2 linked regions of the Homo sapiens genome follow. The protein of the gene in region 1 interacts with the protein of each later gene in a pairwise test. Each region holds a gene or a part of one and is shown in the gene's direction. Other genes may lie near its edges.

Region 1 (7,026 bases):
CTTCTATCCATTCTCATTGCAGTAGGTTCAGTGAGTTCAGATCGACCAAATCAATATGGCTCTACAAAACATACTACCAAATTCATTCCACTGTGGGTGTTGGTATTGTCCAGATAGGGAAACCTATTATTACTAAAGAAAAAAAATTGTTTTAATGGGGTTCTAAAATGGAAGTTTATCTCTTAAAGAACATGAAAAATTTGTTGTGATTAAAAAGCACGCTGCCCTTAGGTTTCTAGCTAGAGTTCATTTCTCTTGATCAGTTTTCAGAAACTACTTTGTTATAGGTTTTTAAAGCCCAGGTCCATTTAATTTTAGCCTTCAGCTGAATATTTTCATCACTAGATTTGTGTAAGAAGAGTGATTTATGCCAGTGTTTCTCAAACTTTAGCATGGATAAGAATCACCTGGAGGTAATGCTTACTAACATTACCAGGTCTCCAAGTGTATTCTAACATGAATATTGGTTGATATTCATTTACATTAATGAGGAAGGCAAATGTGAAATAATGGAGTTAAAACTTAACTCATCCGTCAACAACTAGAACAACTTTTTTGCTGAATTAGGTAATAGTTTAATACTGCATGACTTTGTCTTCAATTTTTTAGTTACACACAATACACGTTTTTGTTTTTCTGTTGTTTTTTGTTGAGACAGGGTCTCACTGTGTTACCCAGGCTGGAGTGCAGTGGCACAATCTTGGCTCACTGCGCTCTCTCCCTCCCAGGTTCAAGCAATCCTCCCACTTCAGCCTCTTGAGTAGCTAAGACTACAGGTGCATGCCACCATGCTTGGCTAATTTTTTTATATTTTGTGGAGACAGCATTTTGCCATGTTGCCCAGGTTGGTCTCAAACTCCTGGACTCAAGTGATCTGCCCACCTTGGCTTCCCAAAGTGCTGGGATTACAGGCATGTGTCACCACACCTGCCCACCACACATTTTTAAGTTTAATCTGCATTATTAACATTTTCTTCAACACTTTACTAAGTCTACACCAGTGATCAACAGACTTTATAAAGAGCCAAATAGTAAGAATTCTAGATTTTGTGTGCCAGATGGTCTCCATTGCAACTATTTAATTCTGCCATGGTAATGTGAACGCAGCCATACATTATAAAATGAATGGGTGTGGCTGTGTTCTAATATAACTGTTTATAAAAAACTATTTATAGGCCTCAGTTTGCTAACCCGTTGTCTAAACAATCAGCATAATAATATATCAAGCCCTGCCACCACTAGATCTGAGGACCCATTCCTCCTTCCTTTTTCTTCTCTTCCCCCCTCAGAGGTAACCACTATTCTGAAATTGTTGTGTATTATTCCCATTTATACTTTTGTACTTTTACATATTATCACAGTAAAATAGACTGCACTCAGCTGCCTTAGTTTTGTTTAGAATGATGGGAAAGTGCCCTCCTTTTGGGGGAGGGGGAATTCCAAGAGCTGCCAAAGTTTATGCATACTATTAATGACAACAAATAACAAGTTATCTATATCAGCAAAGCTATAATACATGAATAAGGAATTGAATTTAAACAGAATGAAAAGACAAGCCACAGACTGAGAGAAAATATTTGCAAATCATATATCTGATAAAGGCCTTGTGCCCAAAATCTATGAAGAACTCTTTTAACTTAGTAATAAAACAAACAGATTCATTTCTTTTAAATGGGCAAAATATTTTATCAAATAGTTTACCAAAGAAGATATATGTATGCCATATGAACACTTGAAAAGCTGCTCAACATCATTAGTTACTGGGGAAATTTAAATTAAATCTAAATGAGATATCACTACATACCTATTAGAACATCTACAATTTAAAAAGAGTAGCCATACAAAGCATTGGTGAGGATGGGAAGGAACTGGAACTCTCTCATATATGCTTGGTGGAAATATAAAATGGTACTGCCACAGTTTGGCAGTTTCTCAAGTAATTAAGCATATATTAATACTTACCATATAACCCACTCCTATTTTTTCTAGAGAAATAAAAACATAGATATATATATAAATACTTGTACATGAATATTCATAACAGCTTTATTTGTAATAGTCCCAAACTGCAGACAACCCAAATATCCATCAATAGGTAAATTGATAAATAAATTGTAGTCTATTCATTCAATGGAATATTATTCAGCAATAAAAAGGAATTAACTATTGATACACTAAACAACATGGATGAATCTCAAAATAAATATGCTGAGTAGAAGAAGCCAGACCAAAAAAGAATATGATTCCATTTATATAAATTTCTAGGAAATGCAAACTAATGTATTGTTACAGAAAACAGATAAGTGATGATGATGATGGGAGACATATTTTTCTATATGCCTGATGATGGGAGACATATTTTTCTTGCTTGATGATGGGAGACATATTTTTCTATAGGGTGTATACCTGTAAGAGAGTAATTACAAAGGGCCACAAGGAAATTTGGAGAGATGATGGATATGTTCATTATGTTGATTGTAGTGATGGTGTCACAGACGTATACATATGTCAAAACTTATCAAATGTTACACTTTAAGTAGGTGTAGTTTGGGCCAGGTGTGGTGGTACACGTCTTTAATCCCAGCACTTTGGGAGGCCGAGGTGGGCGGATCATTTGAGGCCGGAGTTTGAGACCAGTGTGGCCAACATGGTGAAACGCCATCTGTACTGAAACTACAAAAATCAGCCGGGTGTGGTGGTGCACCTGTAGTCCCAGATACACGGGAGGCTGAGGCAGGAGAATCACTTGAACCCAGGAGGCAGAGGTTGCAGTGAGCCAAGACTGTGCCACAGCACTCCACTCCAGCCTGGGCAACAGAGTGAGACTCTGTCCCAAAAAATAAAAATAAAAAAGGTACAGTTTGTATATCAATTATTTCTCAATAAAGCTATTTAACTATTTAAGAAAGGAATATTACATTGGTTATAATGAAATGTCTTAATTTTTAACTGAAAATTGTTTATATTAATGATCTTTTTTTATGATGATCAGTCTAAATATTTAATTACTGGTACCTTTTTTCATCTTTTAGGATGTGGAGCCACCCAAAATTTCAAGCACAAAAAACATTTCCATTAAGCAAGAGCCCAAAATATCATCCAGTCTTCCTTCTGGTAATAATAATGGCAAGGTCCTCACAACTGAAAAGGTAAAGAAGGAAGCTGAAAAGAGACCTGCTGATAAAGTAAGATTTTATTTTAATCTTGTTAAAAGAAAGTAAATTAGTTGTTCCATAAGCAGAAAGAAACAATGTTTTATGCCTATTTCTTTTATATAATAATGGGTATAGGTATATAATAATCAACACTCAGTGAATATATATTGATAGCTATAGATTTTGACTTTTCAAAAAATGAGTAAAATTTACAAATTTTAAAGTTAAGTGGTTAAAAGTTATTGTCAATAAATATTTGAGTCCTAGGGAGTATAGTAACTTTGAGTGTAAACTTTAATCTATGCCTCAGAGATCCTAGATGGAACAGTTGTTAAGAAGAAAAGATAGATACACTTTGGGAGGCCGAGGCAGGTAGACTGCTTGAGCTCAGGAGTTCAAGATCAGCCTGGGCAACATGATGAAACCCCATCTCTACAAAAAATACAAAAATCATCTGGGTGTGGTGGCATGCACCTGTAGTCCCAGCTGTTTGTGGGCGGGTGGGGGGTGGGAGGATTGCTTGAGCCCAGGAGGCAGAGATTGCAGTGAGCGGTGATCGTGCCACTGCACTCCAGCCTGGGTGACAGAGTGAGGCGCTGTCTCAAAAAAAAAGGAAAGCAAGAAAGAAAAGATGGGAAAGAGTATAGATGTAAATGACTAAACATAAACTTTATAGAGTGGTATGCACCTGAACAGTGCCAAAGATGATTCTTGGATTGTCTATTTTTAGATGATTTCTACATATAGTAATTAAGATTTTAGTAGTTAGAAAAAAATACATTTGAAAGATATCTTCAGTAACCCTTGCCCTCAAGATGGAGTATATTATCCCGTATGTTTTCATACTTTTGCTAAATAGTGGCTATTCATAAACTACATTAGATTATTTCTCTGTTTTTAGATCTACATAAGTGAAGCTGGGTGTGGTGGCTCATGCCTGTAATCCCAGCACTTTGGGAGGTCAAGGCAGGAGGATCACTTGAGGTCAGCAGGTCGGGAGTTGGCCACCCTGGCCAACATGGCAAAACCCCCTCTCTACTAAAAATACAAAAATTAGCCAGGTGTGGTGGCGCACACCTGTAGTTCCAGCACCTCAGGAGGCTGAGACGTGAGAATCACTCTAACCCAGCAGGCGGAGGTTACAGTGAGCAGAGATTGTGCCACTGCACTCCAGCCTGGGCAACACTGCAAGACTCTGTCTTAAAAAAAAAATTATGTAAATGTTATCATACTGTGTGTGTGTATATCCTTTGGTAACTTTTTCTCCACTCAACTATGTGCTTTTGAAATGTATCTTTGTTAATGCATGTAGATCTAGATTTCTTTTAGCTACTACATAATACCAGTTTATCATTCCCCTACTGATTTATCATAGGGGAATGATTAACCAGTTTATCATTCCCCTACTGATGCACAATTAGATATTTCTCCTTTGTTTCTATTACAATGGAGTTTGAGTGAGCTACTTTATACATATGTCATGTTAATAGTTTCTATAGGATGTATACCTATAAGTGAATATAATAGGATATGACATCTTCAACATTACTAGGCATTGCCAAATTTCTATCAAAAGTAGATGTACTAAATTTACACTGTCATCAACAAAGTATAAGAATTCCAAATTCCATGTCTTATCAGACTTTTTGATTTTTGCCAAATCTAATGGGTATATTGATAATATTTATATCTTAAAGAAGGGAATCCGAATTTGCTTTGAAGCAAATATGTGTTAAGTCTGTATGGTAGATACTAGTCTAAGTAAATCCATCGATCTTCCATAATTCTTTAGTAGATAGAAGAGTACAAAGAGAAATACAAATATTTGTTAAACTGTTCTGATTTATTTATTTCTATCTTGCTGGTTTCATTTAATATACTAATAAATTCATTGCAATTCTTCTACAGATCTTTAATGTGCACATCTGTCCCTAACTATGTGAATATATCTGTAAAATGGACTTGTTCATTGCCAATTGTCCTTCTCACTCGTCTTTCAGTGACTTAAAGTTTATTCTACCACATTACTTTATCATTTTCTGATGCCTGCTTTTTATAGATGAAATCAGACATCACTGAAGGAGTTGATATTCCAAAGAAACCTAGATTGGAGAAACCAGAAACACAGTCATCTCCCATTACTGTCCAAAGTAGCAAGGATTTACCTATGGCTGACCTTTCCAGTTTTGAGGAGACCAGTGCTGATGATTTTGCCATGGAGATGGGATTGGCCTGCGTTGTTTGTAGGTAAGTTGTACCTTGCCACAGATTCTTTTGTTACTTTATAAAGAACACATGACCCTTTCCACTCCTCAACCCCCAAAATCAGAAAAATTGTTGTGCATTTTCTATTTTGTTTTTACTATTTGGAACTGGGGTGGAGATAAGTAGGTAACTGCCCATATAACAATTTAGCATATTGAAAATTGTCAACTATTTTGTCTTTCCCAACTATGGCTTTTAAATCTGTTATGTTGTAACATTTTCTGCATTTTTGGGTTCCAGAGGGAAAGTGATTATTATATTATGATATATATGCCTTTGATAATCTAAGGCTATGGTGATTGCTTTTTGTGCTGTTGAAATTTATACTTTTTTATACACACATGGCTTCATTCTATTAATCTGATCAGACATTTATTGAGCACCCTATGTGTGCACAGTAATGTGCTAAGGACTGTGGATAATTAGGTCCAGTACTCACCTTTAGGTGACTCATATTAATGAAGAACAACAACAACATACAGCTAACTAATATAAGGGAATTTAATGGAGATACAAAATGTTATGAGGCTGTTGGAAGACTAATCAGAGTCTACTACCTTCTGAGAGAAAGGCAAAAATTATGACGAGAAATGACGAGAAAATAGCCAAATTTAATTAAGGCATTCTATATATTTATTAATGGTTGACCATAAGCTTTAAAAGCTTATGCTTTTGTGCATGCCAAGTGTTGGGGTTTGTTATTTGCTCTTTGGGTTTCTGGGATTTTTTTTCTTTTTAATATACCAAACTTTACCAGAACAACCTGGAAATAACTTTTTTTTTTTTTTTTTTTTTTTGAGACAGAGTCTTACTCTGTCACCAAGGCTGGAGTGCAGTGGCATGATCTTGGCTCACTGCAGCGTCCATCTCCTGGGTTCAAGCGATTCTCCTGCCTCAGCCTCCTGAGTAGTGGGGATTATAGGTGTGTACCACCATGCCCAGCTGATTTTTGTATTTTTAGTAGAGACAGGGTTTCACCGTGTCAGCCAGGCTGGTCTTGAACTCCTGACTTCAAATGATCCGCCTGCCTTGGCCTCCCAAAGTGCTGGGATTACAGGCATGAGCCAGCACACCTGGCCCCTGAAATAACTTTAAATTATGGCATTTAAAAAAGTAGTGTAATGTTTAATGGTATGTTTTCTTAGGCAAATGATGGTGGCATCTGGCAATCAATTAGTAGAATGTCAGGAGTGCCATAATCTCTACCACCGAGATTGTCATAAACCCCAGGTGACAGACAAGGAAGCGAATGACCCTCGCCTGGTGTGGTATTGTGCCCGATGTACCAGACAAATGAAAAGAATGGTAGGAATCATATTTTTCTTTATTTTAAACAGTCTGTCAATGTTTTTGTTGGTATGTGCTTTCAAAACAAAGATTTGAATATTTAAGATATTGAAAAAATAAATAATATAAGCTGATTATTTATTTATATGTATAGTATGTACATGTGATTAATATTTCTATTGCTAAAGACCAGACCATGTTATGTGCATTTTTCTCTTTTTAGTTTTATCTAATTCTAATATAGATAAAACAAGATTGGTGACACACAAATTATGAATATTCCTTACTAGTCTGTCAATGTATTGACAAACATTTTAAA
Region 2 (7,026 bases), on another chromosome or scaffold:
GGCCACCTGCTCCAATCCCAGGCAGTGACAATCGTGCAATGTCCCTGGAGCAGGAGTGAGATATCAGATGGACCTGTTCAGGACTGGGGGGGGTCTCACTCCCAGCTGGATCCTTCAAGCCCAGCGCAGCCCCCCAGATTCCACATGTGGGGCGGCAGGGACTCCAGGCCTGAACTATGCATAGCCAGAAGGGTCCATTGCAGGGCTGTGTAGACTGAGGCCCAGAGAGGAGGGCTGAGCAGTCCCAGAGATGCTTGGAGGGACCTCTGTGATAGCCTCGCTTGTGTTTTCCAGGCCCGAGCTGCTCACTGAGGGAGTCAAAGAGCCCATCATGGATAGTCAAGGTACCCAGCGCGGGGTCGGGAGCCATGGTGTGGGCGGGCAAGGGAGGGCCCCAGGCCTCTGCCACCAGCCCCTCCTCCTGCTGCCTCTGTCCTGCTCCCATCCTGGCCCTGGCATTCTCCCCACACCCCCACATTGGGTTTCCCCTAACGATGCCATCTTGGGTCCCAGGAACTGCCTCCTCACTTGGCTTCTCTCCCCCTGCCCTGCCCCCAGAGAGGGATTCCGGGGACCCTCTGGTGGACGAGAGCCTGAAGAGACAGGGCTTTCAAGGTAAGGTTGAGCTCACGGGGAGGTCTGTTGTCCCAGCACCAGGACATTGACCTGGTTTGGGTTTGGAGGGCCAGGCTGGAAGTGGGGAGGAGCTGGCCCCCAACTTCAGGGCCTAAGGGACCAGGCAAGCCAGGTTGGCAGCCCAGGCCCGGCTGTACCCTGCCAGCTCTGTGTTAGAGACTCCAGGGGAGAGGGGGTGCCTACAGGTGGACGGTCGGGGGAGCCCAGGAGCCTGCCTGCCCCCTCCCTGCCCCACCCCCCAGAGGTAGCTGACACGCCCACTCCTTTTTCAGCAATCAGCTGTGGTCTTAGTGCTTTGAAATCAGAATAGGAGCCAGACGCGGCACCTCACGCCTGTAATCTCAGCACTTGGGAAGGTCAAGGTGGGAGGATCGCTTGAGGCTGGGAGCTCGAGACAAGCCTGGACAACATAGAACCCGTCTCTATGTCTATTTTTAAGAAAAGAAATCAGAGGCCGAGTGCAGTGGCTCACGCCTGTAATCCCAGCACTTTGGGCGGCCGAGGCAGGTGGATCACTTGAGGCCAGGAGTTCAAGACCAGCCTGGCCAACATGGTGAAACCCCGTGTCTACCAAAAAAATACAAGAATTAGTTGGGCGAGGTGGCGTGCACCTGTGATCCCAGCTACTAGGGAGGCTAAGGCGGGAGAATCGCTTGAACCTGGGAGGCGGAGATTGCAGTGAGCCGAGATCATGCCACTGCACTCCAGCCTGGGTGACAGAGCAAGACCCTGTCTCAAAAAAAAAAGAAAGAGAGAGAGAGAGAGAGATGGTGGTCTGGGATCCCTCCAGCACATGCTGGCACTTGTCTTTGTTTGTTTGTTTGGATGGAGTTTTACTCTTGTTGCCCAGGCTGGAGTGCAATGGCGTGATCTCAGCCCACTGCAACCTCCGCTTCCCGGGTTCAAGCAATTCTCCTGCCTCAGGCTCCCAAGTAGCTGGGATTATAGGCACGTGCCACCACACCCGGCTAATTTTTGTATTTTTTAGTAGAGACGGGGTTTCACCATGTTGGACAGGCTGGTCTCGAGCTCCTGACCTCAGATGATCTGCCCACCTCAGCCTCCCAAAGTGTTGGGATTACAGGCATGAACCACTGCACCCAGCTTTTTTTTTTTTTTTTTTTTTGAGACAGAGTCTTGCTCTGTCACCCAGGCTGGAGTGCAGTGGTGCGATCTTGGCTCACTACAACCTCCACCTCCCAGGTTCAAGGGGTTCTCTTGCCTCAGCCTCCCAAGTAGCTGGGATTACAGGTACGCACCACCATGCCTGGCTAATTTTTGTATTTTTAGTAGAGATAGGGTTTCACCACATTGGCCAGGCTGGTTTCCAACTCCTGCCCTCAGGTGATCCTCCTGCCTCAGCTTCCCAAAATGCTGGGGTTACAGGCATGAGCCGCCGCGCCCGGTCACACTTGGGCGTTTTTAATGAACACTTTCTGGGTGAGGGTGTCTTGGTGGCTCATGCCTGTAATCCCAGCACTTTTGGAGGCTGAGGCAGGCAGATCACTTGAGCTTGGGGGTTCGAGGCCAGCCTGGGCAACATGGCGAAACCCCATCTCTACCAAAAACACAAAAAAGAAATTAGCCAGGTGCGGTGGTGCACGCCTGTGGTCCCAGCTACTCAGAAGGCTGAAGCAGGAGAATCGCCTGAGCCTGGGAGGTGGAGGTTCCATTGGGAGCCGCCAGGCCCATCCCCTGTGTCTGTGGGGACTGCCCATCCTCCTCCATCTGCTAGATCAGCTGGGCTTCCATTCCCTCGCTTGTCTCCAGCCCCCTAGTGACTTCATGAAGCCCCCGCCCCCTGCCTGCCAGCCCAGGGCACAGGACTCCGTACTCTATGGTGTCCCTCCCCTCCGGGGCTTATTTATTGGTTTGGTGGTTTTCAAATGTCATCAATTAACTTAATTTCCAACTCATCACTGTTGTGGCAACAGTGCATGTCCTTCTGAAAAAAAGACATCTCCATCAACATGTCGGTGCTGAAGGACCTGAGGGGCCCACTCCAAAGATCCTTTAATTGCCGGAGAAGGAGTTCCCCATAATTAGAAAATCATCTTCCTTAAAAGTCACCAAGTGCTTTTTCACTCAACAGCCCAAACCCATAATCGTTTTGCGCTTTGCAGAAAATTATGACGCGAGGCTCTCACGGATCGACATCGCCAACACACTAAGGGAGCAGGTCCAGGACCTTTTCAATAAGAAATACGGTAAGCAGTGCAGAACCCCCGGGGAGGGACACGCAGCTGCTGTGCACAGAGAAGTGGGAGGCTTCCCAGTTCCAGCCGAGGGCATTTCTGGGGAAACAATTCACCCCTTTACATGTATTTCTTGAGCATATACTACGTGCCAGGCACTGTCTCAGGCACTGGGGATATTGCTGTGAATAAAACAGACACAGTCCCTGTACTCATGAGCCTTGCAGACCAATGAGGTGAGATACACTTTCAAGAACTACACACAGAATTTAATAGACAAGGGCCCGGCACAGTGGCTCCTGCCTGTAATCCCAGCACTTTTGGAGGCTGAGGCAGGTGGATCACTTGAGCTCAGGAGTTCGAGGCCAGCCTGGGCAACATGGCAAAACCCCATCTCTACCAAAAACACAAAAAAGAAATTAGCCAGGTGCAGTGGTGCACACCTGTGGTCCCAGCTACTCAGGAAGCTGAAGCAGGAGAATCGCTTGAGCCTGCGAGGGGGAGGTTGCAGTGAGCTGAGATCGCGCCATTGCATTCCAGCCTAGGCAACAAAAGCGAAACTCCGTCTCAAAAAAAAAAAAAAAAAAATGGAGCATATGACATGGGAGCATATTGGTGTGGCTTTTTCTTTCGTTTCTTTTTTTTTTTTTTTTTTTTTTTTTTTTTTGAGACAGGGTCTCACTCTGTCACCCATGCTGGAGTACAGTGGCGTGATCATGGTTCACTACAGCCTCAAACTCCTGGGCTCAAGCAATCCTCCTGCCTCAGCCTCCCAAGTGGCTGGAACTACACCCCACTGGGCACTACCATGCCCAACTAGTTTTTAGAAATTTTTAGTAAAGACAGGGTCTTGCTGTGTTGCCCAGGCTGATCTCGAACTCTTAGACTTAAGAGATCCTCCTGCCTTGGTTCCCCAAAATGCTGGGATTACGGGCATAAGCCACCATGCTGGCCTTTTTTTTATGTTCTGATCAAACAGCTCAGATTGTAATGCCTATACCTTTCCACAGTGCTACACTACATAAGAGCTTTCTCGTACCATTCACTCTCCTGCACGCATGTCTTTCCATCACATCCCCGCAATCCCATGTACACACACCCCACGCTGCCTCTCACTCCTGACGGGCAGGACCCTGCCTCTCGCCCACAGGGGAAGCCTTGGGCATCAAGTACCCGGTCCAGGTCCCCTACAAGCGGATCAAGAGTAACCCCGGCTCCGTGATCATCGAGGGGCTGCCCCCAGGAATCCCGTTCCGAAAGCCCTGTACCTTCGGCTCCCAGAACCTGGAGAGGATTCTTGCTGTGGCTGACAAGATCAAGTTCACAGTCACCAGGTACTCAGTGGGAAGGGTGAGGGTGAAGAGGCAGGACTAGCTCAGATGGGAGCTTGCACCTGCGAATCCTTAGCCTTTCCCTAGGTCCTGCCCTCCCCCCTGGACAAGGTGGCTCTCCTGGCACCATCCTGGGTCCTGGGGGTGGTTGGAGAGGGACTGCAGGCCAGCCCAAGTGAAGGGAGCCCTTCAGAAGTGGGACTGGTCACCCCCCCATGGCAAGGGCAGCCTTTGAGGGCATCTTCAACCTGTTCAGCAACACCCGCTCACTGCACCCCCAGCCCCCGGGAAAGGTATTCAGCCCCCATCAGAGGGATTTGCCCAAGGTCCCGGGGCCAGCCAGGGCAAAGCCTGCACAAGGCCCAGGTCTGCGTCCTGCAGAGTGACACTGCCAATGCCAGCACCCTGCCACATTGTCTCAGTGTCCCGCACACACAGAGCCCCAGGGCAGCTTGTTAAAATGCAGATTCTGCTGCTGTAGGTCTGGGGTGCTCCCAGGGGAGACCGAGGCCACTGAATCCCAGGGGTGTCTTCCTCATCCCCCAGGCCCTCCCCATGACACCCCTGCCTCTGTTTCTCTTCTAGGCCTTTCCAAGGACTCATCCCAAAGCCTGGTAAGAGGCACTGGCTGTGGAGGGGGCACTGGGAATAGGGCCCGATCGTGGTGCTGGGGACTGGAGCTAAGCCTGCTGTGGGGCACAGGTTCTGGGGTCTGGGAACAGAAGCCAGGCCCCTGCCTTTCTTTTTTTTTTTTCTGAGGCAGAGTCCTTCTCTGTCACCCAGGCTGGAGTGCAGTGGCTTCATCTCGGTTCACTGCAACCTCCACCTCCTGGATTCAAGCAATTCTCCTGCCTCAGACTCCTGAGTAGCTGGGATTACAGGCAATTGTCACCATACCTGGCTATTTTTTGTATTTTTGGTAGAGACGGGGTTTCACCATGTTGGCCAGGGCTGGTCTCAAACTCCTGACCTCAAGTGATCCACCCACCTCGGCCTCCCAAAGCGTTGGGATTACAGGCGTGAGCCACTGCGCCCGGCCTAGGCCTCTGCCCTTCTGTTTAGCCACCTTACCTGGGCTCCTGCCCCAGGTAGATGGAGGAAGACTAAGCTTGAATGTGGCCCCAGATCCTGGGACAGAGAAAGGGGTGGTGGCGTCAGTGACTTCTAAGTTTTACCCAGTCTGGGTTCAGGAGGGAGGGGCCAGGCCGAGTCAGTGCACCTGCTCCTCCTGATAAAGGGGCTCTGGTTGACCTCAGTGAATAGGCGAGGTTGGAGGTGAGTGGGTTCCTAACCGCAGAAGGAGGGGTGTCTGCATGGGGACCACAAGCATGTTGGTAAGATGTGGGTGGCGCCTACCCTGCCTTAAACAGTGCAGTGCCTCTCCTGACCCTTTTTAAAAAAATATTTTATATATATAATAAAATATATACATAATAAAAAATATATATAATAAAAATATTATATATAATTAAAAATATTTATATAATTAAAATATTATATATAATTAAAAATATTATATATATAATAAAAAATATTATATAGAGAGAGAGAGAGACAGAGACAGACCAAGTCTCACTTTGTTGCCCAGGCTGGAATGCAATGGCACTATCTCTGCTCACTGCAAACTCCACCTCCCAGGTTCAAGCTATTCTGCCTCAGCCTACCAAGTAGCTGGGATTATAGGTGGGCACCACCATGCCCGGCTAATTTTTGTGTTTTTAGTAGAGCTGGGTTTCACCATATTGGCTAGGCTGGTCTCAAACTCCTGGCCTCAAGTGATCCTCCTGCCTCAGCCTCCCAAAGTGCTGGGATTACAGGCATGAGCCACCACACCCGACCTCCTGACCCTTTTTAAGGCACCCATCCACTTCTGTCTCCACCATGGACTGTGTCCTGGCCTCCCAAACCCAGATTTGCAGGGGCTGTCCCTGCAGGGTGATCCCAAACCCAGATTTGCAGGGGCTGTCCCTGCGGGGCGACATGCCACTTGGCAAGCACTAAGGGCTGGCCAGAGCCTCCAGGGCGGGCCAGGCACGGTGGCTCACACCTGTAATCCCAGCACTTTGGGAAGCCAAGGCAGGAGGATCACTTGAGGTCAGGAGTTCGAGATCAGCCTGACCAACATGGTGAAACCCCATGTCTATTTAAAATCCCAAAATTAGCCAGGTGTGGTGGCGCACACCTGTAATCCCAGCTACTTGGGAGGCTGAGGCAGGAGAATCACTTGAACCCGGGAGGCAGAGGTTGCAGTGAGCCGAGATCGCGCGACTGCACTCCACCTTGGGCGACGGGACTAGATTGTCTCAAAAAAAAAAAAAAAAAAAGAACTTAGGGTACAGTGATGTGGCGGCTGCTGACAGGCCACGGGAACCCCCAGAAGGGGGATCAGGAGGGTGAGGGGTAGTTGGAGAGGGTTTCCTGGAGTAAGGATGGCCCTGCTTGGGCCTCAGGGGAAGATGGGACTTTGAGAGGCAGAGAGGAGGGTGGGTTTGGCGGGGTGAACGGCAGGGGTTGGGGGGTCACTGGATGCCAGAAGTGTGTTTCCGGAGCTCTCGGAGGGGCAGAGTGGTCAGATGATGTTGGAAAGGTGGAGAGAGTGGAAGCTGCAGCAGCACAGTGCAGTGAGTGTGGCTCCAGTGGACACCCGGCTGAGAGGTCACTGGGTTTCTGGCCCTGCACTGGTGCTTTATGCGGGTGCCTTTCACACATATTTTGGGAGGTCCTGCTGGGACAAGGTGGTATTCTAGAGGAACTAGGGTTACAGCAGAGTGCAGACAGAGGAGGCATCTCATTTAGTCTTCATAGCTAGGAGGTTGACGCTAGAGCCCACCTTACAGAGGGGGAGACTGAGGCTCGGTGTGAGT

What was found. The genes of interacting proteins can lie anywhere in the genome.
Region 2: the proteins of INTS12 (region 1) and GTF2IRD1 interact in binary tests that used the Homo sapiens proteins (3 or more experiments, as listed by UniProt).

The regions. Positions count from the first base shown.
Region 1 is NC_000004.12:105,691,675-105,698,700, reverse strand, and holds part of INTS12 (integrator complex subunit 12), read left to right. Parts: intron 1-3,032; coding exon 3,033-3,185; intron 3,186-5,214; coding exon 5,215-5,402; intron 5,403-6,565; coding exon 6,566-6,725; intron 6,726-7,026. UniProt on the Homo sapiens protein: Component of the integrator complex, a multiprotein complex that terminates RNA polymerase II (Pol II) transcription in the promoter-proximal region of genes.
Region 2 is NC_000007.14:74,554,880-74,561,905, forward strand, and holds part of GTF2IRD1 (general transcription factor II-I repeat domain-containing protein 1), read left to right. Parts: intron 1-294; coding exon 295-344; intron 345-513; coding exon of another isoform or gene 514-558; coding exon 559-615; intron 616-2,759; coding exon 2,760-2,843; intron 2,844-3,981; coding exon 3,982-4,165; intron 4,166-4,747; coding exon 4,748-4,776; intron 4,777-7,026. UniProt on the Homo sapiens protein: May be a transcription regulator involved in cell-cycle progression and skeletal muscle differentiation. May repress GTF2I transcriptional functions, by preventing its nuclear residency, or by inhibiting its transcriptional activation.